Linked DNA regions of Homo sapiens: all the other regions are linked to region 2. The links come from fine-mapping of genetic effects on gene expression. A gene starts in region 2. Each other region holds a variant in brackets. All regions are shown on one strand. Distances are from middle to middle. Region 1 overlaps LINC02698 (long intergenic non-protein coding RNA 2698). Region 2 holds the start of LINC00900 (long intergenic non-protein coding RNA 900). Region 3 has its middle 6.1 kb from the start of LINC02698.

The links.
Region 1: its variant is fine-mapped to the expression of LINC00900 in whole blood (TOPMed, PIP above 0.99).
Region 3: its variant is fine-mapped to the expression of LINC00900 in nasal epithelium (TOPMed, PIP above 0.99).

Annotation. Positions count from the first base shown.
Region 1 is chr11:115,702,014-115,712,167 of GRCh38, reverse strand. All of the region lies in intron 2 of LINC02698 (long intergenic non-protein coding RNA 2698), which reads right to left. Among named protein-coding and RNA genes, the nearest start is that of LINC02698, 48 kb to the right of the region's middle. The variant C/G (reference allele first, on the strand shown) is at 4,388.
Region 2 is chr11:115,755,321-115,765,474 of GRCh38, reverse strand. It overlaps LINC00900 (long intergenic non-protein coding RNA 900), which reads left to right and starts at 5,275. Exons shown (of 3, transcript NR_034148.1): 1 at 5,275-5,445; 2 at 7,223-7,334; 3 at 8,183-10,144. All of the region lies in intron 2 of LINC02698 (long intergenic non-protein coding RNA 2698), which reads right to left. RefSeq lists enhancers at 5,681-6,215, 7,395-8,594.
Region 3 is chr11:115,648,143-115,658,296 of GRCh38, reverse strand. No RefSeq gene overlaps it. Among named protein-coding and RNA genes, the nearest start is that of LINC02698, 6.1 kb to the left of the region's middle. RefSeq lists an enhancer at 1,625-2,126. The variant G/C (reference allele first, on the strand shown) is at 4,977.

The DNA of each region.
Region 1 (10,154 bases), 53 kb after region 2:
CTGTACAGTTGCTTTACTGTTTCTCATCCCCACCTGCTATAAGCCAGCCAATAAAGGTATTAGTAAATTAATAATTCATCTAGAGCCAATCCAAAGTAGCACACACCTGCTCAGAAACTACCTGGGCTTATTTTCAGTAGCAGTTCCCAGACTCTTTGATCCTGGGGAATGTATTTATGAGTGTTTCTAAGGTTGGGGGAGGAGTATGCCGGTGCCCAAGGCTGTTGAGGATCAAGTGTGGCTGTGATGGCACATGGCAGACATTCAATAATGATCTCTGCTGGTGTTTCTATTATTCTTATTACACCTTCTGTTCTGAAGAAGGTGGCAGCGTACCTCTTTCCATGGTTAGAATAACAACAGGCTTCCAGCCCCCAAGCCAACTCAGCTTTTGATTTAAACAAAAATACTGCAGGTTATTCCTTTGGTAGAAGGTGGAGAAAAAGAAAAACAGACAGATTGCCAGGGAAGATGTCTTCTTTCCATTCACCTGATGGCTCTAGGGAGCCCTTCCCTCCCCCATGGAAGACAGGGCTCTCCTCCAGCCCAGGCTCTCCACGACCAGTCCCTTGTGGGAAGAGCAGGCCTCTGGCCACCAGCCCTTTGGCCTCCACTAGGTCAAAGAAAGGGCCATTTGGTCTTCTTTCCCACTCAATCACTGTGCCCTACAGAGGTGACGGTCCACCACTCCATGATGTTTCTGTGCAAGAGTTGCTCCACAAACCCAGGCCAGCTGCAGCATGGGCCCTATCAGGTGTTTCCGAGGGATCTTCCTCTTTCCCGATTCCCCCCTCCTGTATGACTGGAGGAGAGCAGGCTGGGCACGCAGGCCCTCAGCGGGACGTAATAGCAGATGTGTGCAGTGCATACGGTTCCCGGCACATTCGTTTGATCTGTGTCCAGGTTCTCTTAGACATTTGCTTCTAAGCCGACAGCTGAACATAAAAGCAGTCCCAAGTGGCTGTTTTCAGGTCTTCAACATTGGTTAGCCGCAGTTGGGAAATCTTCTTCCCCGTGCCCCTGAGTGAATTATCACGTTATCGAGTCGGAGCTTCGGGGTGGCCAAGCCGGAGCTCCGCCGCTCCTCCTCTGATAATCCATCACCCACCGAGTGGGTTATTAAGACATTCTCTGCCTGGGCGTGTGCATCAATCTGCGGCTCAACCATCCTCCCAAGGGAGCACGCTGGAGGGGTTCCTGGAATTCCCATCCCCCAGATGTTTGAGCCACACAACCCTCGCCACTTCCTCAGCCCACCAAGGGGTCCTGTGTCTGATCACCAGTCCATCTTCATCCCCTATGTACCCCCTCCCCACCATTGCCCCCTGCACCCATCCTAGCCATTCAAGTAACAATTTCTTCCAACACTAGCCCTCCTGAGCACGCACTCATAGGAAAGCCCACCCCCCTCCGACCCCATCTTCTCCTTGTCCCTCTGCAACCAGGTCACCCCTGCTGCCCTCAGCCTCTGGGCAGAGGGGAAGATTAGATTGCACATGAATAAGCAATATTCACTTGGCGCTGACAGCCTAGAGTAAATCCCTTGAGCTGTTGTACAGGAGCAGTACAATATTTCCCATCTCCTCTTCCCTCCATCGCCTCCCCCCATCTCCTATTTCACTTAAGGGCCTTTTTTTTTTTTTTTTTTTTTTTTTTACTGGGATGTACTTGCACGTGGGTGACTATATTAGAACAACACCATCAACACACAGCATTTACAGCAAACAGATCCCTGGGAGCAGTCACCTGATTAACAATGAGGAAAGATACTCGAGGAGTGTGTTTCCTATTTTGCCTTCCCTTCTACTGGGAGGAGGAAAGAGGTCTTTTGCTTCCCACATAAGCTCCAGGCCCTGCTGGGTCACTAAGCCCACCTGTGGAAGGAAAACCCTCCCAGGGGCTTCGAAGAGCCTGCCTTTCAGAAAGATCTGGAGAAGTGAGGTACCCCTCAAGAAGGGAAGGTGACCGCCACTTTTACCTAGCTCAGGGCGGATACTCAGAAACGCTGGGCAAGTAAAATCCCGCCCCACTACCTAGCAGCTGTGTTCCCTTAGGTGAGGCACTTCATCACGCCCCTGCCTTACTTTCCTCACCTGCTAAATGGGAATTAATGCCCTTGAGTAAGATGCTGGTCACAAATGTTTAGAACCGTGCCTGACACATGCAGTCAATACTCATGAACTGTTTTTGTTCTCCTTTCATCTGCCACCTCCACTCCCCATACCAGGCCAGATTCCAACAGTTACGCCAGGAACAGCAAAAAGGGACGTTTTATTTATTTTGTTGTCTTTGACAAAGACGTGCACCCGACCCCTCTCAATGGTTCTTCCTCAGGCCTGGGAAATGCCCATTAAACTTATTTGTCTCTAGTGCATGATAAGTAAGTGATCAATCAAGAGAAGAAGGGGGCAGGAAAGAAAGGGGAAAATGAAAAGAGGAAAGAGGGGAGGAGGGGGCGAGAAAGAGAGAGGACGAAAAGTCAGGAAGGAGAGAAAAAAAAAAAATGAGGCGAAACCGTGGAAGAGATTACCACAAAATCAGCCTGTTCAAAACAAAACTGATCCTACATCTCCTCCCCCGCCCCCACCCCACCCCGCCCAGCCCCAGCATGTCTGCCCGTGACTTCCCTGTTTCTATCAGTGGTGTTACCATTTTCCGTTGTCTGAGGCTTAAAACCTCAGGGTCATCTTCACCTCTTCCCCATTTCTTGTTCCCCTTATTCATTCACTGACTCGTCATAGTAACTCTTCATCATCTTTCTCAGGTACTTCTTTTTTTTTCATTTTCTGGCCACCCTCACTGTTGTTCAGGGCCTCATCATCTCCCATCCCCATGCATTTGGTCTTCCTGCTTCTAATCTGTGTCCCTACCACCCACTTTGCTCGATGCATCCAGACGAATCTTCTCAAAGCGCCATTCTCGTCATACGGTTTTCCGTTTCGAAAATCAACAGTGCTTTCCCTCTCCTATGAGCCCCTCACACCATCCCAGCCTCTTTCTCCACCTCGCCTCTGCACAGACCCTCTCCTCCAGTCTGACTTCTCTTCTCTTTGTTCAGGACACAGAAAGTGCATTTCCATCATGATGAATTTTGGGTAGATGCTCAACCTGCACCGTCTGACATAGTAGCCACAAGCCACAGGCGGCTACTGAGCACTTGAAATGTGCCTAGCACTACTGAGAAAGTGAAATTTTAATTTTATTTAATTTAAATTAAAAATTGAAAGCAGTGGCCGGGCACGGTGGCTCACGCCTGTAATCCCAGCACTTTGGGAGGTGGAGGCGGGAGGATCACAAGGTCAGGAGATAGATACCATCCTGGCTAACACGGTGAAACCCCGTCTCTACTAAAAAATACAAAAAAAATTAGCTGGGCGTGGTGGCGGGTGCCTGTAGTCCCAGCTACTCGGGAGGCTGAGGCAGAAGAATGGCGTGAACCCAGGAGGCGGAGCTTGCAGTGAGCTGAGATCGTGCCACTGCACACCAGCCTGGGTGACAGAGCGAGACTGTCTCAAAAAAAAAAAAAAAAAAAATTGAAAGCGGTGTAAACTATTTTTGTATTCAACACAGCTTTATTGTTTTGATAGAACCACATTTCACTTTAACCATCACATCCCATAAAATGTTATTGCTATGCTATAGTACATGTGTTGGGGAACATGTGTCATTTCTAGTATTAAAAACACATCACTGGCAATATCAGTATCAATGAATTGATTCTGTTTGAATGATTTTTTTCTATGCACTGAAGTACCATTGTAATGTGATTATTTATGTAGACAGCCTGTGTTACAGGGATACCTGTTTCTTTTAATTTTTTAATATGCCCACTAGACTATGTAAAATGTAAATGAGCCTGCATTGTAGTGCTAGTGGATCACTCTATTGGCTTGGGTGATGGGACACTGGGACTTATTAGCAAGGGAGGCAGGAAACAGCTCCCTAGAGCTGCTCATGGCAATGTCCAGATTGAGATGGTCCTGCCAGGGGCATCTAGAAACCAACAGTTTGAGGCACCCTGTGCTCAGGTGCTTAAGGCACTCTTAAGCACATTGCAGAAGGCTGCAGTCCATGGTGGGCAGGAGGCTTGGCTTGGGAATCCAGCTAAGGCTGAACTGGCATCCACCTCTGTCAACCTGATGAGTGATTCTGGGCCTCAGTTTTCCTGCCTGCTAAACTGAAAACAAGCTCAGAAGGTTGTTGGGAGGAATGCATAAGATAATTCTCTTAGCATGGTATTTGCAGATAATGAGTGCTCAATAATCATTAGCTATCAGTCTATTGGATTTAATGCAATAGAGGCAGGAGGTGTATAAAATTACTTCTGGAGGCCCGTTGTTTCCACTTTTCTCTGATTTGCAGTCACATGATGGCTGTGGAGGATGAC[C/G]TTTTGACTCACAGAGATGAGGTCCATTGCAGCACTAAAATCAGCTCATAGGGAAGTATTTTTTTACCCACAGACTCAGCATGAAATGTGTTCTCAAATGTCCGTCGACTAACCACAATGACCTGCCCTTGCAAATCTCCCATGATCAGCTCTGAGCTCCACCTCCAGCCTCTCTGGGATGGGGTTGGGGGTGGGCTCTATTTCTATGCAGCTACTGGGTACTTCAAACTGAACGTTTGTGTGCCCCAAAAATTTATATGCTGAAATTCTAACCCCCAATGTGATGGTATTAGGAGATGGGGGCTTTGGGGGGTGATTAAGTCATGAGGTCAGTGCCCTGATGAGTGGGATTAGTGCCCTTCTAACAGAGGCCCTGGAGAGCTCACTCTCCCTGTCCACTCTATGAGGACAGAGAGAAGGCAGCTGTCTGTGAACCCAGAAGCAGCCCTCCTCAGACACTGAATCTGCCAGCACCTTGATCTTGGATGTTCCAGCTTCCAGAACTATAAAAAAAACAAATTTCTGTTGTTTAAAAGCTACCCAGTCTATGTTTTTGTTACAGCAACCTGAATAGATTAAGACACTGGATTTGCCAAAAAAAAAATAATACTCAGTATGCCTGGCCCTCCTCCCAAAAACTCACCTCCAGGTTCTCTCAGGGTTGACTGAGTTCTCAAGCTACAAATCACCAGGACTGTGGTATAGGAAACTCTCCAGAGAAGCTCCAAAAGAAAGCCTCTACCCTTATTTCCACCTAGCTCTTTACCAAATTTAGAGGGTGAGCTGATCCCTGGCACTACCCAGGCAGACCATCTCATGACTTAGAAATATCCCCTAATGTCCTGCCAGGCAGGAGGAAAGGAAGTAGCTTTACAGCTTGAGTCACTGGAGCACAAGTCCTCTCCCAGCACTTCTTAGTAAAGGAAAGGACAATGCTTTCAGACAACACTGGAAGAAACAACAAAGCAGAAACCAATTCCAAGTTCTCTGCAATGTTCTGGACCCAGAGCCAAAGACAAAGCTAGGGAGGCTTGGATTTAGGACCTAGAGATGCAGCAGAGTATCTTAAAGGGCAAGAGAGTAAAGCGTTGCAGCATGGTGGCAAATGAACTCACACAGGAGCCCATGCTGTCATTAAAGTTACTGGTTGGCCTGTTAGGGTTCTTTCCTATCTGTTTCTAATGTGACTCTGTGAGTGGATTAAGGACTCTGGAAAAGATTGCTGGAGGCCAGTAAATACCTCCATTTCCCAAGGCAAGTGTTGCAGGGAGCTGTTAAAGGGTCTTAGAGGAAAGTAATATCAGGACAACTTTTCGTGGTAAGTAACTTATACTCTTTTATTTTTTGAGACAGGGTCTCACTCTGTCACCCAGGCTGGAGTGCCCTGCAGCCTTCACCTCCCAGGTTCAAGCGATCCACCTGCCCCAACCTCCTGAGTAGCTGGGTAGCTGGGATTACAGGCATGCATTACCACACCCGGCTTATGCTTTTTTAATGAAAGGAAAAAAAGAAGGAATTAATTTATTCATGTATTTATTTATTTTATTTTTTTCTGTACTGGAAACAAGGTCTTGCTATGTTGCTTCTGTTGGTTTTGAACTCTTGGACTCAGCAGTCCTCCCACCTCAGCCTCCCAAAGTGCTAGGATTACAAGTGTGAGCCACCGCACCTGGCCAAGAAGGAATTTATTAAGAGGATCCTGAATATTTCCTATAATCAGAACTAAAATTGAATAACCGAAGTGGGAAATGTAAAAATGCTGCAACAGACCAGCTTCTTCCATGTAGCAGACCTACTTCACATAGCAGAGATTACTAGTAGCCTAATCCAACATGCATCGTCCTTTTCTCCTTAGTGACAAGATCCGTTTTACTCAGGGGAGTGAGCAATGGTTTCCAGCTATAAAGCTACATTTCCCAGCTTTCTTTGCAGCTAGGCATGACCATGTGATTAGGTTCTAACCAATGAGATGTAAGCAGAGGGTTAGGCCTTCTCAGAAGGAGGGACATGCACATTTACTTCCTTTTGTGCCTTCAACAGCTTGGAATGCAAATAGATCATTGAAGTTCTTGCATCTTTATTAAAACATGAGTGGACTGGAGCTGGAAATTTGCACTGAGGATGGAGAGGGAGAAAGTTAGGATCCTGACCCATGGAGCTCTCTGCCTGGCCCTGCAAGTTGTATCTCTAGACGTTTACATAAGAGCAACATCCATGTCTATTGTGTTCAACTCACTGCTTTCTGTTTAGTTTTGTTTTCTTGTGGTGTGATTGAGTGGGGCAGAGAATAGTACAGTACTACTGAATATAGTAAAATTCAAGTCATGGACTACAGTTAGGATATTTCATAATTTCTTATTCTATAGCATTTTTAACCAAAGAGGAATCTGACTGACTTCCTCAATTTTTGTTTTTAAAATTCCAGAAAAGTTCTTAGACTGGCCTAGCTCAGATGCAGTACTATCCCTGGACCAAACAGCTGTAGTCCTGGAAGCATGTCCCATGAAAGGCCAGGAAGAGAGGGGACACAGGATGTTTCCAATGCTGACCACTGCATGCAGAGGGAGGCGTAACAGATCCTAGATGCAAAGAGATGAGTAGACAATGCCTATATGTCTACTGTAAGAAGGAGTAGGGGCAAATTACATTAATTTTACCATTCCTGCACATGTCATTGTAATCAATAATGACATTTCATATTTGTATAACGGTTTTCAATTGTTTAGCAAATTACAATATAAAATCAATTTTTGCAGTTATGACCCCCTTGGATCTTCACAAGAAGCCTATAGGGTAGTTATGGATCATCCCTATTTTGCAGAAGCAAAACTGAGACCGAGAGAGTGTAAGTAATTCATTCAAAGTCTTCGTTGGGGAGTATCAGAGCTGGATCTCAAGTCAGGGTGCAATTTATACCACTCCAACTAACATATTAATTCAGCAGTCATTGAGCTTTCCTTTGACAGAGAGGACTGGATTAAAGATGATCTATCTCTTCTCCCATCCATCTCCACTCCCTATAAAAGACAGCTCTGTTATCATGATACTTAGAATTGAATTGGACAGAGGAGAAAACATACTGTATTAGTTCGTTTTCACACTGCTGATAAAGACATACCCAAGACTGGGTAATCTACAAAAGAAAAAGTTTTAATTGGACTTACAGTTCCACGTGGCTGGGGAAGCTTCACAATCATGGCAAAAGGCAAGGAAGAGCAAGTCATGTCTTACATGGATGGCAGGAGGCAAAGAGAGAGAGAGCTTGTGCAGGGGAACTCCTCTTTTTAAAACCATCAGATCTCATGAGACTTATTCACTATCACGACAACAGCATGGGAAATACTTGCCCCCATGATTCAGTTACCTTCCACCGGGTCCCTCCCACAACACATGGGAATTCAAGATGAGATTTGGTTGGGGACACAACCAAACCATATCACATACAGTGGAACTATTTTAAAGTACCAGGCAGGAAAGTAGCTATAAACTAAATAATGTCTCTAGAAGGAATGGATGCCTAAGCACTGCCTGCATGTGAAGTCAGAACTGGTCACTGCCAGGCTGCAGATGCTCCAGGAAAGTTGGCCATGATACTGATGTTAGCCCAGAAAATCCCTGGCAGCAAAGCTGTGAGAGCAACAATTTCTTTATTGGGACTTTTTAAAAAGAGCTTTTGGTATACTTGAAACATAAGTATGACTTATTTTCTCAGCTCTGGTAAATATTTAATTATCAAAAATAACAGTGTCTTTTTTCTTTTTTTTTTTACCTTTTTGAATCTGAATCATAGCTAGAATTTTATTAAGGCTCTCTTGGCAGTGAATGGCAGCCTAGTGTGGCTTTTTTTTTCTTTTCTTTTTTTTTTTTTTTTTTTGTGAGTTGGAGTCTTGCTCTGTCACCCAGGCTGGAGTGCAATGGTGCCATCTTGGCTCACTGTAACCTCTGACTTCCAGGTTCAAGCAATTCTCCTGCCTCAGCCTCCCGAGTAGCTGGGACTACAGGATCCCACAGTGTGGCATCTTTTAACTGGCATCCCTGTAATTAGAAGGAATTGTCTTTTTGTACCACAGATTTGAACTGGCTAATTTACTCAATGAATATTTAGCTTCATACGTAGGCAAACATTATGTGAAGAGAGGAAACTTTACTGAATAAGTATGCAACCTAGAAAACTTCCTAGGAGCCAAGTGTGGCCTGTCTATATGAGATTTTCTCCATGGCCCCTTACCCCAACTGTCATTTCCCACCTCTGCCATCTCAGATACACACACACACACAGACACACACACACACACACAGACACACACACACACACAACACATTCTGACATTTCTGGGGAAAGTGGGCAAGGTCCTCAGTTGTCATTCTTTGGAACTTTATATTTTTGTTTCTTATGAAACATTTTCAAATATTCAAAAATTTTAAAGAATAATATGATACTCTGTGTCTACCTCCTAGCATAAATAAAACATCACCAATAAAGTTAAATGCCCATGCACTACATCCCCTTTCTCCAAACCATATCCCCTACCCACTATTCCCACTCTCTTGAATTTGACCACCTTGAATTTGGTGTTTATATTGCTGTGTATTATTCATAAATGGTATATAATATGGTTTTGCATCATTTACAACTTTTATAAGTGGTATCATGGCGTATATATTCTTCTGCCACTTGCTTTTTTAGCTCCACAGTGTGTTTGTAGGATTCATCCATGTTGATATGCATAGCTCAACTGCATTCATTTTTATTACTATAAATACTTTCATTGAATGAGGCTGGGCACAGTGGCTCACGCCTGTAATCCTGGCACTTTGGGAGGCCGAGGCAGGCAGATCACTTCAGGTGAGGAGCTCAAGACCAGCCTCGTCAACATGGTGAAACCCTGTCTCTACTAAAAATACAAAAATTAGCCAGGCTTGGTGGCTCATGCCTGTAGTCCCAGCTACTTGGTAGCTGAGGCAAGAGAATTGCTTGAACCTGGGAGGCAAAGGTTGCAGTGAGCTGAGATTGTGCCACTGCACTCCAGCTTGGGTGACAGAGCGAGACTCTGTCTCAAAAAAAAAAAATAAAGATAAATAAAAATAAGAATTTCATTAAATGAATATGCCCCAACTTATTTATTTTTTATCCACTCTCCTGATAATGAAAATTTAGGTTGCTTCCTTTTATCTTTTTGTATGTCTCTCTCTTTTTTTTTTTCGGTTATCACAAACAACACAGCCATGATGCCTTTGGTGTGTGTCTCTTATGCATTTATATGAGAGCTCTTCTATGCCTAAGAGCAATGTCTAAGAGTGGAGTTGCTGGTTTGCAGAAAAATGTATCTTCAACTTTATGGAATGTTGCCAAACTCCTGCTACTCAGTGAAGAATATATAACCCAGGAAAAGTTGATCTTTGACCAAATCAGCCTTCCTTTTCAATGCTCTCCTGTGGCTCTGGGGACTTTCAGGAGCCTCCTTGGTGTTCCCAAGGGATGCTGGGCTCAGTGAGCCACCAGTAAGGGCCCAAAGCCACAGCCTCAGTGAGCAGGCCGAACAACCTGCCTGTTTCATTTTCCTGTTGATCTCCAGCACCTCTTTCTCCTCCAAGCTCTCAGAGACTTAGAGCTGGCAGAGGAGCATGATGAGCAATGCTGCTCAATGCCCACCATCACTATGACTACTGAGGGCCCAGGCCTTGAACCCTTGGATTCCCAGAGACTAAGCAGGGAACACGAGTCCTCAAGAAATGCAAGAGCAGCCCCAGGGCAAGAATAGATTGG
Region 2 (10,154 bases):
GCAGTGAATTCAGTTTCAAAAATATTGAGTTGGAGGCAGCTTCAAGATGGTTAAGTGGAGATTTCAGGTTTGCTGTTGGAAATACAGCTCTAAAGTGTAGAGGAGAGGTCTGATTTGGAGGCAAATGAGGGAGTCTTTGGCATATGGATGATGATTAAAGCCAATTCCATGGGAAAGATCACCTTTGGGGGAGAATATAGAGTAAGAGGAAGTGAGGGCCAAAACTTGAAGAGCCCCATTGTGCAGATGTCAGATAGCAGAAGAGGACAAGCCTGCCACAGAGACTGGGGAAAAGCCCCCCAGACAGAAGAAAGGAATCCAGGAGCATAGGACTATGCTCTGGGAGAAAGGAGCATCATCTCCCAGTGAACAGGGAGGAGGGCATTTCAATGAAAGAGAGTGGTCAGGAAGGTGTACTATCACTGCAAGGTCAAGGGAAATGAGGAGTAAAAAATGTCCATTAGATAGAGACATCAACCCAAGGTCACTGGGAACCCAAGCCATAGCTGTGTCTGTGCACATATTAAAGGAGCCAATGCACACGAGGCACCCTGTGCAGCAACTGGCACGTAGTCAGCTCTCAGTAAATGTCAGCTTTTGTTAAATTCACTCTTTAACATGTATACATCTAATATTCTCCTATTCTATTGAAGGAGGAAAAGAAGGAGACACAGGTTAACATCTTAACAGGAGAGCTTGAGATTAAACCCAGAGAACTTCCAGACAGGAAGGGCTGTAAAATGCCTGTAAAGGCTATTAAAGAATATGATAGGACTCTGGATAAACTTAGGCTCAGGACAGATTCCTGTGTGGCGTCTGAGACAGGACTAATGCAGCTCTTCCTTGAGGCAGGGGACCCACCCCAGTCATCAGGGTGGATCATTTCTGCACTGGGTGGCCCTAGCCCTTCCTCCCCTGCCCCCATGGAGACGAAAGCTGTCCTGTGAAGGAAAAGCCTCCTCATTTCAATGGCTGGGCAGCCCAGGTTAACATTAACAGAGTCCTCCAGCAGAAAGCACCCAGAGGACAAGCACTGAAAAATATGCTTGAAGGGCCAGCCGAGTGGCCAGGATTACAATGTGATGCCCGGCCTTGGGTCAGTAATGGGGAGGTATTAGTCATCTCTTCAGACCTCAGCTCCATTATTTTTGCCAGAAATGTGAGAACAGCTCTCACTAATAACGTGTGGAACCACTTCCAACTATTTGCCTTTCAAGTCAGCCTCCTCAGGTCGGGTGACATATCTCGTTTAACAGGGGGTGCCATTAGAGGGAAGATTTAACGTGTGGCTAAAAGCATTTGTAGCGAGAGCTGTGGGTGGGTTCCTTTTTAAGCTTCTGTGGCTGGTAACTTGCGTCTCTTCCCTCCGTGCTGTTGGGTTTTGTTGTTGAAGCCTTTTTCTTTCCTGAAGGAGGTTGGTCATTAACTCTACCCTTCCCGGAGGATCCCCTGGCATGAGCAGGGCAGGTCGAGAGTTGAATTAGAAAACTTTCCTGTGCCAATCAGAGACTGCATGAGGTTCAGCAGGCTGGCATAATTATTTGAAGCTTCTTGCTATCCTCATACAATTCCCCCCCAATCAGGTGACCTGGTGTCCCTTGATATTGATGTCTTACAGCAATAACCTTAGCCTTGAAAACAGAACCACAAATTTACCAGCCCACAGAATCTGTATATCTACCAACAACATGAGTCCTGCCTCTTCTCATGCCTTGAGAGGGCCAACAGTCATGCCAGGAAGAGTGGAAAGAAGAGGGCTGAGAATCTGGAAAAAGAACTTGTTATTTTACTGAAATCTCCTTTCTTGACATTTTTCCCTGAAGGCTGGGACCATTTAAGGCCCTGATGAGCTTCCGAAATCTCTGTCCCAGGGTAATCTTCCTATCTCCCAAAGTCTCAACCTCTCGAGACTCTGATTCTTTGTCTGAACACAGAGAGAGTAATAGCTACCTATCAAATGAAAGGCTATAGTTAGAAGCACTGAGCACAGGGCTTTGCACATGGGAGGGGCCCAATAAACATATATCACTTACATCATTTTTGGTTATAAGTTACAAGTCATAGAAAATCCAACCAAAGTGCCTAAATAGAGGGAATTTATTGGATTGTATAATTAAGAAATCCAGGGCTAGGCCTGGCTTTGGGAATCTAGCTGGTGGCTCATGAAACTCTCTCCAGGGTCAAGTTTCTCTCTGGCCATCCCTTGACTGGGCTTCCTATGTCCTGGCTCCAGGTCATTCAAGGCTTGGTGGCAGCAAGATGACAGCAGCTGTATTAGTCCCAAGTCCAACAGAGAAAAGGCTGCTCTTCCTCTACCTCATCCCCCAACAATTCACCTAAGTCCTAAGCCAGACACTCACTGGGCAAGTTGGGTTATGGACTCATCCCTGAGCCAATCGCCAAACCTTAGGCCTTGGAGTGTGATGACTGGGTTTACCCCTGAGTCTCAAATTCCACCTGAAGGGGAAGAATGACGGAAGGAGCCCCATCAAACTCAAGGTGCTGAGAGTTGCATGGAAAATATATCTCAAAAAAAAAGAAAAAAAAAGGTATACTATCACTACCAAAAAAGTGGCCAGGGAGGATATCAGGGTGCCCAAACATAGAAATATCCACTGCAAATAATAATTTACCATCCTACTCCATGTGTGAGATACAGGTTATTTGAGAGTAATGTTTAATAACGATATATCATCAAGGAAATCTCCATGAAGTCGCCCTCAAAACTTTTCAGCAAAGTGCCCACTTCCCCATATATTAGTAATATATTGATTACACCCATTATAGCACTTTTATCATCTGCCTTCTATTAGAGTTACTTACTTTAAGACTCTGTTACCTCCATCACAATTAAGCTCTGGGTAGTCAAATACAGGGTTATTTTTCTCCTCAACCCACACAGCACAAAGCACGCAGTGGGAAATCTGGGTGCTTCCCGACCCACACTGGCTCCCTGTATCCAGTTCAGCTCTGTTCTTGTTCTTCCCTTTCCTTCCCCTGACCACTTTATCTACTTGGGGTTAGACTGGGAGGGACTAATGGATGCGATGAAGTCTAAGGTCAGAGGTTCCCCGACTCACCCTCTCTCTTGCTAGCATCTGCCTCTGTTATAGCTTCTCTCATGTTGTACCTTGGGTTGTTTTGCTGGTTTCTCACCACTGTTACCTTGTGCCTAGAACAGTAGCTGTCTCCAAGAAAGCACCCAATTAAGTGGTATAACCACTACGAGTGATTCTCACTCATAATCGCCCCTCAGATTCTCAAAGAAGAGCCTCATCTATCAGGGCTACTGAAAGGTAAGGTACTCAGCCCAGGTGAGGGGTTCGAAATCTAGAGGGCTATAATGCAGAATACATAAATAGAGAAGGAACTGTAAAGCTCACTGTTGTTCCTTGCTCTCCATCAAGCCAGAGAAGATGCAGAGACAGTACAGGGAGCCTGACAGGCTATAGGGGGCAGACTGAGTTAGTAGAGCAGGGGATCTTCAGCTTGACTCAGCATGCAGTTGGTACCCATGGGGAAAGGGGAGGCCAACAATTAGTGGGGGGCTGGCAGCAAAGACCCTCAAAGGCAGAAAAGCAACACAGCTGTGGCTGTGAATGAGCAGCCTGGCAAACCATGATCTCAGTAGTGTCCTGAAGCCAAGAGGAACAGGCTCCACTCCCTGGGATGTGGGTGGGAAAGGGCCCAAGAGGAGGCCAGTATCTCAGTCAGATGGGACTGGAGCTCAGGGGGCTGTAGTGCTAATTAGGAAACTAAGGCAGAGTCCCAGCACTAGGAATGGAACCACTTTAGTGGTGATCAAGGGAAGGGTGTTTGCCACAAACATACTGGATCCTGAATCTGTGGGCAGACATCTGAGTACAGCACTTCCCCTACCAGTAAAAGGGAGGTGCTAGTGCCCTCCTAGCCCAATTAGGGCAGGCTCCGTAGCTGGGTGGGGCTGAGCTTGTAGGAAAAGGCCTACTAGGCAGTGCCCTGCAGGGCTGGGCAAGCCAGGACTGATGGCTGGGCCAGGTGAGAAAGATTTCCTGCTGTATTTGCAGACTGAATATGTGTCTGGGGCTAGGGGCTGAGCTGCTGCCAGCACCATCTGACCTCAAGGATCCCCCTAGTCAACAAGCAGCAAGAACAGGAGACTCCAGAGGCTCCCTCAGCTTTGGAGATAGCTCTGCAAACAAAACTCAGTTTTTAGGGGTTAATCCTCAGCCCCAGGAGGAGGCAGTGGGCCTCCTCTGAAGGGCAGAGTCAGCAAGTGGGCTGAGACTAAAGGAAAGGCCCAAGACTGCAGGCCTGAGATTAGTTTGGCAGCAGCTCCAAAGAGCAGCCCTTGAATCGCAGGGATTGTCTGAGCCCTCAAAAGCACTGGCTGCCTCCCACCAGCCTAGCTAATGGGGCTGAGCTGCTGGGGCCATGACCTCTGTCTACCCGGCTGATGGTCTGCTGCTCTGAATCTCACTCCCCCAGCACCCAGCAGGACCAAGGGCTCTGTCTAGCTTATGTGCATCGTGCCCTTGCATGTTTTCAGCACCTACTATGCGCGCAGCATCACACCTCCCCATCCACCTGCCTCCTGTTACTCTCACCAGCACGCTCAGTCAACCCTTGGGCTAATTAGTGATTAGGTCTACAGTAAGCATGCATGGTGGGGTGCAGAGAGTGGGGTGGCCAGCGGGTGATGAGTGAGGGGAGAAGAGAACAGGAGATAGGAGGTCATGGTCTGACCTTCTTCCAAAGCCCGGAATCCCTGAGTCTGTCTCTGGCAGCTGTGAAACAGAGGGAGCATGGGATCTGAACCGTGCCGCCATCTGGGAGGTCACACACACTCACAGCCAAACCCCCGGAAGGAAACTCGGGCTGAAATACACCGTTTGCTGAAGAGCAGGGCTGGGCACTGGTTTCTCTGCGTTCTGAATTTCTAGAAAGGGTAGGGTCTCCGTTGCCAGGCGGCGTCTGCCACCTCTTCCCACCGCGGCCCCTCCAGCCCTCCACCCCTTCCCCTGGGAGACCCCCTGTGAGGACCCTCAGCAAACTTCTGCAAAACCTGACGGGCCCTGGGTGCAGGGTGGTGTGGACGCAGATCTTTCAGGCCGAGGGGGGGGCGGCGGGAGGGTGGGCGTGGAGGTGCGAGAGGCGCGCAGCCTCCGCCTGCCCAGCTGTCTCTGCGGACCCCGCCGAGGGAGGGAGAGAAGCGCTAGGAAAAGGAAGAGGAGAAGGAGCTCGAGCGGGAGGCAAGCGAGAGGCTCTTTTGCTCCTCCCAAAGCAGGGGGCGGCTCCACTGTGCTTCTGATGACCCGGCCGCCGCCGCCGCCCTGCAACCGCTCCCCGGGACCCCTCAACGCTGACACTGATGACCCGCGGCGGGGGCGCTGGGCGCGGGGTGCGCAGGCCACTGGCCGCGGGCTCTCGGGCCCGCTCCTGCCGCCGGCTTCTGCTGCTTCCGCGGTAATGACACTCGGCGGAGCGGCCGCCATCTCTTCTGGTACTTTCACTGGAGGAGGGAAGGGTGGGGAGAGCCCTCTGTCCACCCCTGCCCTGCCCTGGCGCTGGTCCGCCACTGCCCGCTGCTCTCGCGCTGGTCCGCAGCTCAGCCGAGCAGCTCCCTTCATCTGGCCTCCCAGACCCTCACTCAGCCGCGAGAGGAGGAGCTCCGGCGACCTCGGGCCTTCCCTTAGGGTCTGCGCGGCCCTTACCCCAAACCCGCCCAAGGTAGAGGCGTGAAGGGGCCGGCGGCGATGCAGAGGCGGGAAGCGCATTGGGGAGGCGAGGCTGGAGAAGGGGACGCAGGGAGGCGGGGGGTGGACCCCCAGCATACTCCAGGAGCCGGCAGGAGCCAAACCCCAGCCCTCCACACAGGTATTCCTGCGGACCACGAGGTGCCACCCGTCCCTGGTCGCAGAAAAGACGAAGGGAAGGCCCAGCTTCCCTACCTCTACCTCCCATGCCGGGCGCCCAGCCTGCTCAACTGAACCCCAAGCCGCAGGTTAACCCTGCTCCAGCTTCTCCCCTTGGCTATGGGCAAACTCCTTTTCTCTTTCCCATTGAGAACCACCGCTCAAATTCGGAGGGCTTTCCTCCTTGGTGCTCAGAGCTCCCAAGATGGGTGATTCTCTGCCAGGGGTCCTTAGCTACCCACTTTGGACAAGGATGGACAGATGTTTTCTCAAGCTTGCCTAAAGCACAGCTTCTAAACAGATGAGCCCTCCCCACGTTCCCCGCAGATTGTCTGGCCTTCGAGGAAATAAAGATGACCGTAGCCAAGCTGCCCTGCTCCGCACAAAGGACCCTGGGCGCCCCATCCTTAACTCCCCTGCCTTATGCTTGAGATTAGCATATCCACCCAGCAACTCCTCTGCTCCAGACTTAACTTGACCACTGCAGTCCACACCGACTCTCCTATCCACCAGAACTGTGCACTTAAAATCTGCTGCACACAATCCCATACTTGCTTGAGTCTGGCTTTGTTCTCCAATAGTTTCAAATGCCTGTTTGACTCCCCCCGCCACCCCCACAGAGATAAGGTCATCACAAGCAGTAACTACTGCTTTGCTTGTTTTGATTCCCACAGAGCCGAGCATAGATTGATGTGGCATAAGTGCTCAATAAATGCCCATGGACTTGGCTAATGGATGGACTTGCAGGGGACACTGCCCCATCAGGAGAGAAAGGTAGCCTTACTCTCATCTGCCCCACCAAGAGGAACCTAAGGTCCTATTTCCTGGGGGTGTCTCAAAAATCGGCAGAGTCGTTCTCCCCCCACCATCCCTCCTTGCCTCCACTCCCCTCGGCCTTCTGGATCCCCGTGGGTTTGGAGAGGCCGATGCTTGTGGCTCTTACCAACATCAATTTGCAGTCTCCAGGATGCAACTTCACCCTATGCTGCGTTCATAAATTAATCTCCTGGGATTAGATTCTGTGTTTTAGTAACACTCCTGAGGCATTGTATTTACACATTAATAATAAAAGAAAAAAAGTGAGACAAGTTCTGACAACTTTCAATAACATTCAGAAATAAAGTGCGAGGCACGGAAGTGTCCAAAGTTAATTAAAAGCATTTGGTGCTGACGGGGGCTGGGGGTGTTGCCTGCCTAGCTCTGACAGGTGCTGTTTCTGAAATGCAATTTTCCTGTCTATAATGTACCTGATGCCTGCAGAAAAGGAGAAACCGAAATAAACTGAACTGGCAGCATGAGCTTGAATTTTCTCTTGTTTTGTTTTACAGTGCCGTGGACACTGCCAGAATTTGTCAAAGGTCCTAGGAAGAAAAGGCTCTTTCACCCCTCCCCTCAATGAACAGATGGCGTGTTTGGACTGTTCGCATTCGCTCCTCATAGGTGGGATCCTGGAGGAAGTTAAGGGGTGCTCCGTTCCCTGGGGATGGGACAGCAGCTCGCCTTTTTACTAATAGCTATAAGGGACTGTCAGACATTTACCTGACTAGACCTTCACCTCAGAGCTCAGAAGGGGAACAGCTCCAGAACTAAAAGAGAGAGCCTCTGGCAGACCCCAAAAGACAGCATGTGGAGTGAAGCTGGGCTTCCCTGCCCAATCACTAGGATCATTTATTGCACAAATACCTGTATTTTAAGCTGCAGATTATTGTGAATTTTTGTATTTTCTTCATTTCCATTTAGCTTTTTTTCAATTTTAGAATAGCCTTTCTCTAGATAACTCGAGGAAGTGGGAGACGGAATTTCCTTTGTTTCTGTCTTGAGCCCAAAGGGACAATTGAGTGTCAGGTATGACAGGGATAAAGGGAGAAACTCAGAAATAATGCTTTTGTTTTGTTTTGTTTTGTTTTGAGATGGAGTCTCGCTCTTGTCGCCCAGGCTGGAGTGCAATGGCATGATCTTGGCTCACTGCAAACTCCACCTCCTGGGTTCAAGCGATTCTCCTCCTCAGCCTCCCAAGTAGATGGGCTTACAGGCAAGCGCCATCACGCCCGGCTAATTTTGTATTTTTAGTAGAGATGGGGTTTCACCATATTGGTCAGTCCGGTCTTGAACTCCTGACCTTGTGATCCACCCACCTTGGCCTCTCAAAGTGCTGGGATTACAGGCATGAGCCACCGCACCCAGCCAGAGGAATGTTTTGGGTGCTACACGTGCAGCCCCTCATGACTGTATCTCCTCAGAGCTCTTTTCTTCACATTCCTGAGTGCTTTGTGTTTTGTTTATTTAAGGGACAAATGAATCTCTTCCCACGCCATGGGATTTCCCTTGATTTTTATATTGGGAGTGAAAAGATGAAGCATGAGACTCTTCAGCTGCATCTCGAACTGCATCTAATCCCAGCACATCTCTCTCAATCTTTGATTAAGTCTGTTCATCTAAAAGAGAGACACAGGGGAAAAATGGAAATGGGACTTTGGAAGAATGACCATCCACATTCCCATCACAGCCTGAGATTTCCTACCTGATTGAGATTTTCAGTAGATGGCCCTAGGTCTAGTTTCCCACTTTGGACCTGCTGCCCTTGGCTCCAATAGAGGACTTCCAAGTAACTAGGAAGATTTCACCTCTCTTTTGAAACATAATGGACAAATGTGTTTCTTTAGGATGAGAGGTGCACCTGGCTAGTCAATCTTTATTTTCCTAAAATAAACAGGATGAAAACTCAAAACAAAAAGAAATACCTCATGGGCAAAAGCTCTCCCAATACAACTAATACAGACACTCAACATGGCTTTGTAGAAACTGACCCCTCTCCCAAGTCTTATGTTTGTCAGAATTGCATGCCTATTTCAATCGAAGAAAAGTGATCTGATCTCTTCAGATGAAGGTGGGACTTGGAGATGCTGCTGCCTAGAGTTAACTTGCCAGAGAAAGGATAAGCATTCGGGAAGTGCCAGGATGGGGTATCAGCTGAACAATGGCAGGATCCCTTCTGCCAGTGGGCTGGCTCAGGGAGTAAACCTCCCCGGAAGGAATTTTGTTTCTCTCTAGAATCAAAGTGGGCAAAATGATCACCTTATTCGCCTGGAGTGAACCAGGTTGAAACTGAGAAGGCAGACATGGGTGATAAGCCAGATGAAGTCATATGTTATAACTAAGCTATGTACCTGTAACTTGCCTGGTAGTTTTTTCATTCTCTCTAAACAGGTCATAATAAGTGTTAGTCTGTGATCCACTATGGAGAGAGATTTCTGGAAAGAATAGAGGCAGTGGTAGAGGGTCCAAGGTTGTTATTTAAGGAGATGAATGTGGGTCAGGTGCCGTGGCTCACACCTGTAATCCCAGCATTTTGGGAGGCAGAGGCAGGAGGATTGCTTAAGGCCAGAGTTCAAGACCAAACTGGCCAATATAGTGAGATCCCCCCCCCATCTCTACAAAAGATAGAAAAACTTAGCCAGGCATGGTGGCAGGTGCTATAGTCCCTGCCACCATGGGACTACAGCTCCTGCAGTCCCAGCTACTCAGGAGTTGAGGCGGAAGGATTGCTTGAGCCCAGAAGTTCGAGGTTGCAGTGAGCCATGATCATGCCACTGCACTCCTCCGTGGGTGACAGAGCGAGACCTGACTCAATAATAATAATATTAATAATAATGATAATGCAACACAAACTATCTTTTACCTCTTGAACAATGAATGCAGATGCCATGACTACATCTGTTTGTTGGGGACCAGGGAGGCTGCCAGTGAGGATTCAGGGTGGAAGTAGTGTGTACCCAATACCTATTGTGAGATGTGGCCTGGGGAGCCCTGAGATTGCCTGGCCAGGCTCACTCACTACCCAGACACCCTCTTCCTGCATGGCGAGTCCCTCAGCCCCTCCAAGGCTCAATTCTCAGACATCGGAGTAATCCACATCCTCCATCTTGAGTTACTCCTCACAAGGCCTGCAAGTTTTCCTAGGAGGAAGGGAAGACAGGGTTGAACCCACACAATTCTAGAATCTAGAATTTGGAGGATTTCTAAACCATTTCTGTAAGTCAGCCCTTGAGAACTTGTAGATTTTCTCATCATTTGCAGCATGAGAGTCTGGAGTAGACTGTTTGGATTTGACTCTTGGTTCCTTGGGCAAGTTACTTAACCTCTCAGCTGTGTGTCAGTTTCCTTATCTAAAAAGTGTGGTTAATAATAACTGACCTCTCAGAGGTATTGTGAGGTTACTGTGATGATTAAATTAGTTGATTCATATAAAATGTTTAAAAG
Region 3 (10,154 bases), 110 kb after region 2:
GTGGCACGATCTTGGCTCACTGCCACTTCTGCCTCAGGGCTCAAGTGATCCTTCCACCTCAGCCTTCCAAGTAGCCGGGCTTACAGGTGCGTGCCACCATTTCCTGCTAATTTATTTGTGTTTTTTTTGTAGAGGCGAGGTCTCCCTATATTGCCCAGGCTGGTCTCAAATTCCTAGGCTCAAGCAATCCTCCCACCTCGGCCTCCCAAAGTGCTGAAATTACAAGTGTGAGCCACCTAGCCTGGCAGACAGACCCTGTTTCTTAAAAATAATAATAATAATAATAATAAATAAAATTAGGCTATCTTTTACACCCTCACTACCTTTTTGGGACAGAGATAATGGTCAGTTTCTGTGGTCAAGGTAGAAGAAACCTTTGTATTATACATCTTGATATAAAATGCTACCTACTGGTAGCTACTAAAAGTGAACACAACACAATAGCAATAGCTAACTTTTGTTAGTGCTTTGTGGTTTATAAAGCATTCCCATCTGCTTTCTCACATAATTCTCTCTTCTACCCTGTTCTTTCAGTACCCTTCCATTTTCAAATGACTTAAGCAAGACTTAGATGGTTAGGAAGGAGAGGATGCTGAGAGCTAGTTCGATAAGTGGATAGGCGGAGGCCAGCCTCTCTTCCTCTGAGAGCCTGCTTAAGTCTCTAAAATGGTTCGGATCTGTGTCCCCACCAAATCTCGTTATATTGTAATCCCCAATGTTGGAGGTGGGATCTGGTGGGAGGTGGTTGGATCATGAGGGTGGATTTCTCATGAATGGTTTAACACCATCTCCATGCTGTTCTCATGATAGTGAGTGAGTTCTCTAGTTGGTTAAAAGTGTTTGGCTCCTTCCCACTCTCCAGCTCTCTTGCTCCTGCTCTGGCCCTGTGGCATGCCTGTTTCCCCTTTGCCTTTGGCCATGATTGTAAATTTCCTGAGGTCTCCCCAGAAGCTGAGCAGATGCCAGCATCATGCTTCCTGTAAAGCCTGCAGAACTGTAAGCCAACTAAACCTCTTTTCTTTCTAAATTGTCCAGTCTCAGATATTTCTTTATAGCAATGTGAGAAGGAACTAACAGCCTCTCACAGCTTCTCCCCAGAAGTCTCACAACATGTCACGGGAACACCTAAAGTTCTGGGCCCAGCATCTTTGCAGTGTATCTCAGAGCCCTCCCTGGGGAGAGAAGCCAGGGTTTGAGGGATTTCTCTACTTGGGATTGATGGCATGTATATAAGGGGCTGAAGCTAATTTTCATGATTTTCTTTATGTTCACTACTTCTTTTAAGTCAGTGGCTCGGGCGCCTTTTGCACTTGGTTGTGGTTTAGTCATCTGGTGCTACTTTCCCATGGGAAGGCGCTTAGGTCACTGGCGACACCTCAGCTCCTTGATGGGAAGAGGTGCTGCCAAGCTGTGCGTGCAAAGTCCACAGTACTTCCTGTATTCCCTGCCTCCTACCTCACTAACCAATCAGGGTTAGGAGTAGAACTCCTCACAGTGCTTTCCATCCTCCCTGCTGCCACTGCTCAGGAGGGCAGAAGTGCAGAGGCACCACCTCAATGAGCCTTGGGAATGCCAAGCAGAGTCGAGGGCCACTGAAGCTTCCCAGTGACTCCTTAACAGTCCAGGCCACTGCTCCATAATCACCACATCCCCACCATGCAGCCCCCTGCAGAGCACCGATGGCTGCTTGAGAATTACCATCCGCAGATCAATAGTGGGGCGATTACTGGGTCTTGCACGCAGCCAGCAGGCCTCGCTCTGGAGGAGTGTGGAGACGCATGCGGGAACATAGGTTCCCTTTATTAGGGCAGCTGGATTCCAGGTGAGACCAAAGCAAGCCTAGAGACTCCCAGGAGGGGGACTGGGAGGCTTTTGTGGAGCCATGGCTCTGAACTGAGGAGTGAGGAAGAGAGAAGTGAATTGGCCTAAGATGGTCTCTGCCTATCTGCCTATCTGCACAGCTAATCAGCTCCCAGCATCCTTTCCCTGTACACACAGCCCACTTAAGAGAAGTTAATGAAAAGTAAACAAACTGATTCTTCCTATCAACTACCCCTTGATAGAAGGTCCCTTGGGCTGAAGAGGTCAATCCTCAGAAAAGCAGGATGTCTGAGGCCACAGCAGGCACAGAGCTATAGCTTAAGGCTATCTCTTGATAAGAGCTTCTTCAACAAAGGCTGCAGGCTGTAGGGAAGCTCCTTCCCCTAAGACTCAAGCCCTCCATTTACCCATCAGACACCATCCCTGTGATACAGACGCCAAGAACAGAAAGACAATCTGACTTATCCTTCTAGGAGTCTATAGTCTTATGGGAAAAATAGAAACATGACCGCTAGACTTGAAGAATATTAGACATCTCCAAGTTCAACACCCTGAAATTACAGAGGGGAGGAAACAGAGGTCTGGAGAGTGAAATGACTTGAGTAAGGTTTCCCAGCTTCCAGGGTCCGATCTGCACCTGGTGGCCTGACTCCCACTCCAATGTTCTTCCCACCACGAGGCAGAATGAAGCAGGTGTCAGCCTCTGTCTCCGAGCCTCGCCAGAGAGCCTATCTCCTTTGCCTTTGCCTAGCCCTGGCCACCTTCCTCACCTGCTTCTTTCTTCCAATTTCAAATGCATGATTAACAGCCACTCCTCAATCCCTCCTGCTCAACCAGAGGTTTGGGGTTTCATTTCCACCCAGCAGAGGAATTGATAACATTTAAGTTATTCAAGTTAAAAAGAAACGTCCTCCTCAAAACCATCTGTTCTCGGGGAGGAGAGCCTTGACCAGGAGAGACGTAGAGAAAGTGGGGACAGGAACAGAGCGGGTACAGGTGGGGAAGAAGGTTGATGAACCACAGCTGGAGGCCTCCCCTGGTCCAGTCTGCCTTCTTTGTCGAAGAAGATGGGGTAGGGTTCTCCTTGCTGGTCTTCTAACATGCAGGACAAGCTCCTGCCTCAGGACCTTTTCATGGGCTGTTCTGTCTAGATTCCCCAGATATCAGCACACCTCACTCCTCCACCACCTCTGAGTCTTTGCTCAAAGGGCACCATGTCAGTGGAGAACTACCATGACCTCCCTACTTAAAACTGCAATACCCTTCCCCCAGAATTCAGTGTTCACCACCTCCCTTACCCTGCTTTCTAGTTCTCTCTAACACCTAATGACTTCTAGTTTAGTATTTAACTGATTTATTCATCATGTCTTTTGTGTGTTTCACCTCTGCCACTACTAGAAAGCAAGTGTTGAGAGGGCAAGGGTTTCGTGTGTTTTTTTCATCGTACCTAGAATACTGCTGAGCATATAGTAGATGCTCAATAAATATTCGGTCAAGGCATGAATTAAGTAGTGAATCAAGAGTCTTCAGATATGAGGGCTGGGAGAGACCTTGAAGATAAACTAATCTCTAACTCTCAATTTGCGGGTGATGAAAATAAAAGCCAGAGAGAGTTTTGTAGAGAAGGTGATGTTCAAGCAAGGTTTTCTTTTCTTTCCTTTGTTTTCCTCTTTTTCAGCTCTTTCAGTTTGTGCATTTGTTCATTCATTCATCCTTTCACTTATTTATTCAGAAAATATTTATTGGACACTACAAAGTACTAATCACTGCATAAAAATAATATTTGAAATTTAAATTATTAACCATCAAAAAAATAAGTATTATATTTTAATGTAATATTGATCACTTTCTTCCAGACACCTTGCTAAGCGCTTTACATCCATTATTTCATATGAACAACCATACACACTATTATTGGCCTCATTTTGCAGATGATAAAATTAAGACTAAAGACACTGCATGGCCTGCCCTAGCCACACAGCTAGAAAGTGGAGGAGGTGAGACCCATGCTGAGGCCTGTTTGACTCCAAACTTCTGTGCTGTACCACTGCATCTTGTCCCCGCTCCCCACTCTTTCTTTTTCCTTCCCATCTCTGGGATCAAACCAAATGGCCCAATCGAGGCGGCAGAAGAGTCAGCCAAGGTCACCCCGAGCTGAACCCTTTTGAGGCCACACAATCCTGCCACTCCACTGGCTCCCTTGAAGCTACCTCTCCCTGTCCCAGCTGTTCTCCTAGTCCCGGCCCCACGCTCCAAGTCCCATATACGAATGCTGGTATGACTCACAGCGCCAAGATCGGTCACTGGGAAAGAGGACTCATAAAACCTTACAGCAGTTTTATAATGTATTCTTAGCTTTTACAGGCGTCCTGGGCGGCCGAGGCTGGGTGGATGGGCGGGCCCCATAGACCCAGAATTGGTGAGAACCGCTACCATGTGTGTGTGTGTGAAGACAGCACCGTCTTTTAGCTGCCTGATAGGGGAAGGGCAATACAAGAAATGGCATTTCTTCAGCTCTTTACAGTTTAAAAAGCACTTTCACGTGTAATGCCCACCAGATAAGGAAGGTATAATTTCAGAGTCACAGGTAAGGAAACTGGTACAGTGCCAGGACTTGGAATTGGGCTTTCCTTCCTGAATTCGGATTTGGTGCTCTGTTCCTGGGACCAGCTGGCATGGCACTAACTCTCAGTGACCTCAGCTACGTCTGTCCACAGAGAGAGATCCTAGGCAGCAGCATCCTCAGGTAAGGGGGAAGAGTCACCTAAAGTCGACACTGACACAACCACGGGGTCTCAGTCCAGGCCCTGTTACCAGCACATCCCAGAGCAGCCTCTGAGTACATTTCTGCTACCGACACCCAAGGATAGGGGATTTTTCACCCACATCTGTGCTGCAGAAGTCCTAGCTCGACTCCTTCACCTCCCTTCATGCTCCCCTGACTATGTTCTGCAAGCCACCCCACCTTTCATGTCCAGTGCAGACCCTCATTTGTGCCAGGCAAGGGGGCTCAGGGCAATGATGCAGTAACGATGCCTCACAGTTGTAATCACCCACACTATCTCATTTATTTGGATTATTCCTGAGTTCCTAATGAAAAATAAGTAAAGTGGGTCTTGTCATCCCTCTTTTACAGATGAGGTAACAGGTTCAGA[G/C]AAGTCAAGCAATTTTTCATATGTCACATAGCTGGTGACTAAGAGAAACAGGATCTGAATCAGGTATTCTGACTCAACTCCAAGTTTCCCTCTTCTCTTCAGTAAATTTCTGATAGTCCCAGCTTGCCTCTAATTGTTCAGTCTGACAATATTTCCAATTCAATGGATTTCCTGTTTCCTCCAAAATTGAAACCTGGAGCTGACTCTGTTAGCTACTTTGGTCCAGAATGGGCATTTTTGAGCTTGTGAGTTTTTGAGAGTGCAGCTGGGCGGTATTCCTTAGGTATCCATTTCCTTACCACTGACACTAACACCAGCCCCCAGTAACACAACAGGCACCTCTAAGATCGTCTCACTTAGGCCTAAGCAAGGGACCCAGTTAATTCTCCTTAATCCTCCATTTATGGATCACTAGCCCTTCCATGCAGGAGAACACCTAGCATGGTGTATTAGTCCATTTTCACAGTGCTATAAAGAAATGCCCAAGACTGGGTAATTTATAAGGAAAAGAGGTTTAATTGACTCAGAGTTCCGCATGGCTGGGGAGACCTCAGGAAACTTATAACCATGGTGGAAGAGGAAGCAGGCACCTCTTACATGAGGTGAGAGAGTGTGGAAACTGTCACTTATGAAACCATCAGCTCTCGTGAAAACTCACTATCACGAGAACAGCATGGGGGAAACTGCCCCGTGATCCGATCACCTCCCACCAGTTCCTTCCCCCAACACATGGAGGTTACAATTCGGATTGCAATTCGAGATGAGATTCGGGTGGGGACACAGCCAAACCATATTACATGGTTTCAATTGTCTTTCCCTGGAAACGTCACCATGAGGCTTCTCCAGCACTGGTTCCTTTATAGCATCCAGCTCCTTGTGTGGTAAACAGGACCCTGCACTAATCTGGCCCCCTCCTGCTCCAGGAGCCTCATGTATCTCTGTGCCTTGTCCCCCACTGTGCCCCAGTCACTAGCACTGCCTGCAGCCTGTCCAGGGACCCTGCTATCTCACCCTCCTTCCACACTGCTCCCTCCCACCTGGACTGCTCCCCTACATGGAAGGCCCTACCCAGGCCTCTTGGCCTGGCAAACACCTACTCATCTGTCAGGACACAGCTCAAATGTCACCTCCTGTGAAGTCTTTCCTGGTACACACCCCCATCATCCCTGCCGTAGAAATCCACCACCCCTCCTCTACACAGCCCTCACTGAGCCCTAATTAAAGAACTAGCTCCCCGCTAGGTCTGAGAGCATTTTGAGAGCAGGAGTACTGTTTTATTTCTCTCATCATCTACAAAGCTTATCACAGAGCTTGGTAAACTAGAGATGCTATATGAGCCCTCACTGAATGTAACAACACGTGAATGGATAAACAGTTAGTCAATTCCACATTACCTGTGGAAAGGAAGGAAAGGAAAGCTACACCAACGTGGAGCTTAAAACTTTACCTATGTCTCCATCCACAGATGCCTGGATAAGCAAAATGTGGTAAATAACATACAATGTAATATTATTCAGCCTTAAAGAGGAAGGATATTCTGACACATGCTACAACATGGATGAAACTGGAGGAACTTGTGCTAAAGAAATAAGCCAGTCACCGATAGACAAACATTCCACTTATATGAGGTACCTACAGTAATCAAATTCAGAGATAGAAAGTAGAATGGCATTTGCCAGGAGCTGGAGGAAGGGAATAATGGGGAGTTGGTATTTCATGGGTACAGAATTTTAGTTTTGCAAGATGAAGAGTTCTGGAAACGGATGGTGGTGATGGTTGCACAACAATATGAATGTACTTAACGCTACGGCACTATACACCTAAAAACACCTTTTTTTTTTTTTTTTTTTTGATGGTGGGGAGGGAGTCTCACTCTGTTACCCAGGCTGGAGTACAGTGGCGCAATCATAGTTCGCTGCATCCTTGAACTCCTGGACTCAAGAGAGCCTCTCATCCTAGCCTCCCAAGTAGCTGGGATTACAGGCTTGTACCACCATACCTGGCTTTTTTTTTTTTTTTTCATGTTTTTGTAGAGACATGGTCTGGCTATATTGCCCAGGCTGGTCTCAAACTCCTGGCCCCAAGCGATCCTCCTGCCTTGGCCTCCCAAAGTGCTAAGATTACAGGTGTGAGCCATCAGACCTAGCCAGGAAAACTATTTGGAGCAGGGCATGTCTAGATCTTAGCGGCAGCATTTTCTAGGAACTGGTACCTGTACCAAGCTGGTCAAAACTTTACAGAGCAAGGTGCTAGGGACTTGGTGATCAGGATAGAAAAAAGGGGCAGGGATCATTCAGATAGCATCTCCCCTGAGCGCAGAGAAGGAAATGACGAACAGTTATACTTGTAATATTCGTTAACTCCTCATGGCAACCCTGTGATGTAGGAACCACTATTATGACCTTAAACCTAAAGCAGCTAAGACTCAAAGAAGTCAATTAAGTTGCACAAGGTCACACTGGTTAGTAGCAGAGTCTGGATTTGAATCCAGGTCTAAGTCATTGTTCGTTAACAGGATTCACTGAGGTTCCCTGCCTGGAGGAGGAAAATGAGCAGGATTTGACCCTTGTCTGTTGGAGAAACACATCCTAAAAGAGCACATTGTGATTCTGTGTACTGACAGATGTGTGCCAGGATGCACTGGAAAACAGCGAAAGGCTTGTTAATTGGGCCTGGGGCAATCAGGAAGGTTCCCTGGGGGCAGCAGGGAGGAGTTGCAAGGGGAGGGGGACGGTGGATGGTAGGGGCAGGGAGGAGTGTAGCAGTCTGCCCCTCCCCAACAACTACAGACCATGAGGTCTCAAGTCGTCCCATAGCACTTAGCACTCCAGAGTGGAGTTAAACTCCATTCCAGCTCTCCCCTTCCCCATATAACCAGGGAGAAATTGCATCTGGCCTCTGCTTCACAGAACAGCATTTGGGAGGTATATACATACATACAGTTTTGTTTCTGGACTTGCACAAATGCACAGCTGTTTGTCAGCTTGCAGACTGCATTTCTGAGCTGTTTTGCTTTGAACGCCTCACGCCTTTGGCCCCTGAGAATGCTGGGAAACCAAAATGGCAGCAGCTTCCTTGGCCCGAACCTTGAATTTTTACCAGGACTGTCTCACGGGCATCCTCTGCAACCTGCAGTGGACAGCCAAGGTGCTGGTGGGAACCAGGAAGCCCCCTATGCAGAAGCACCAAGGAGAGAGGGTTGGCAGGAAGTCAGCCTCCCTTCTCCAGCACAAGCCATGAGAGGGAAGGACATTTGAGGATGGAGCCTCAAATGCAGGCTGATTGTAAAGAATGTTTCACACATAGAGCTCCTGCCAGGAAAGCCTGACTCTAAAAACTCCAGTCAATGTGGTACTGGAGGGCTCATTTGTTTAGCACCTATTATTTGCAAACTCTAAACTACCTGCTTTGGGGTTTTTAGTGGTGCCTATACCCTATGAAGTCAACTGACAAGAACCCAACTAACTGTAATAAGAGGAAGGCTCAAAGTCCCAAGAGATGCATCTCAAATGCTGTAAGAGTTCAAGGTGGGGTGGAGGGAGCGAGATGCTCCAACCCTGGTAACATCTCCAGCCGAGCCAGCCTATAAACGCAAATAGCCTAGGGGGCTGCTTTTACAGGAGAGTTGGGAGCAGATTGGATCCGTGACAGGAACCATTATTCTTCTGAAATGGAAGAGGCTATCGCCATAGACTGACCACTCCTCCCCAGGCAGGCAGCTGAAGTTGTCCCAAGCCTTGGAATTAAAAAAGAAAGAAGATGCTGATGCCCCAACTGGTCTGGAAAAACAAGATACAGGCTGGGCAGAAACAAAGCCAGGCTTCAGGATGAGATAGGCCTGGGGCCAATCTTGGCTCTTCGACTTAAAAGCTGCGTGACCTGAGGAATGACACTGAACCTCTCTGAGCCTTAGGTTCTCCATCTATAACATGAGGATGACAATCCTTCCATCACAGGGTTGTTATAAAAATGAAACAAAGAGGTATAATATGTAAAGCCTTTAGCCCAGACCTGGTATGTAAGCACTAACTTATTGATAGCTTGTATTATTATTAGCGTTAGTAGTAGTAGCATCTTTAGTGTTATTATTACTAAGATTTGCCTGGGTGTTCCTTTTGCCCCACTCATAAATTTGCTCCATATCCCGGTAGGTCCTGTGGCCTTGGAAGTCTCCCAGCACTGTGGGGAGATGCCTTATTTCTGAGCTTGGGACATTGGTGAAGGAGCCTGTGGTGCAATGTTGTCATTAGTACCTGATACAGGGTTGTCGTGAGGATCAAAGGAGCTAAACATACATGAAGAGCGTCTAGTAGTTCCTGGCACAGAGGAAGTGACAGTGTGGTGTAGAAGTGAAGATTGAAGACTCTGGAGGCAGACTCAGGTTTGAACCCCAGCATCTATCATTCCTAGCAGGATGACCCTGAGCAAGTTATTTAAGCTGCCTGTCACTCAGTTTCCTCGTCTGTGAACTGAGGAGGGAAATAATAGTGCTCATCCCATGGAGTTGTTGTGGGGATTCAACCAGATAACACAGAGTATTGGACTTGAATCCAAAATACCCAGGTTGGAGTTCTGACTCTAGCAATAAACAGCTGTGTAACAGTAGACAAATGACTTAACCTCTCTGAATCTGTTTCATTGCCTGAAAACTAGAGATACTAATGCCCATTCTGGCCACTGCACGAGGCTCACACCTGTAGTCCTAGCACTTTGGGAGGCCAAGGTGGGCAAATCAATTGAGTCCAGGAGTTCAAGACTAGCCTAGGCAACATAGTGAGATCCTATCTCTCCAAAAAAAAAAAAAAAAAAAGCTGGACATGAGGACATGCCTACAGTCCCAGCTGATAGAGAGGCTGAAGCTAGAGAACGCTTGAGCCCAGGAGGTTGAGGCTGCAGTGAATCATGATCCCACCACTGCACTCAGCCTGGGTGACAGAATGAGACCTCGTCTCAAAAAAATAAAAATTAAAATTAATAAATAAAAATAATGCCCATCTCACTTAACTTGATGGGTTAATGTGAGAATTAAAGCATTTTGTAAACTGTAACAGGTAATAAAAGTATAATAGACAAATGAAAAAGTAAAGTTGTAAAGCAGCATTATAGTTTTCTTAGAAATATTATAACGTATATGTCTTGAGGAAAAGACATATAGATAAACATACGTGCTTGTACAAA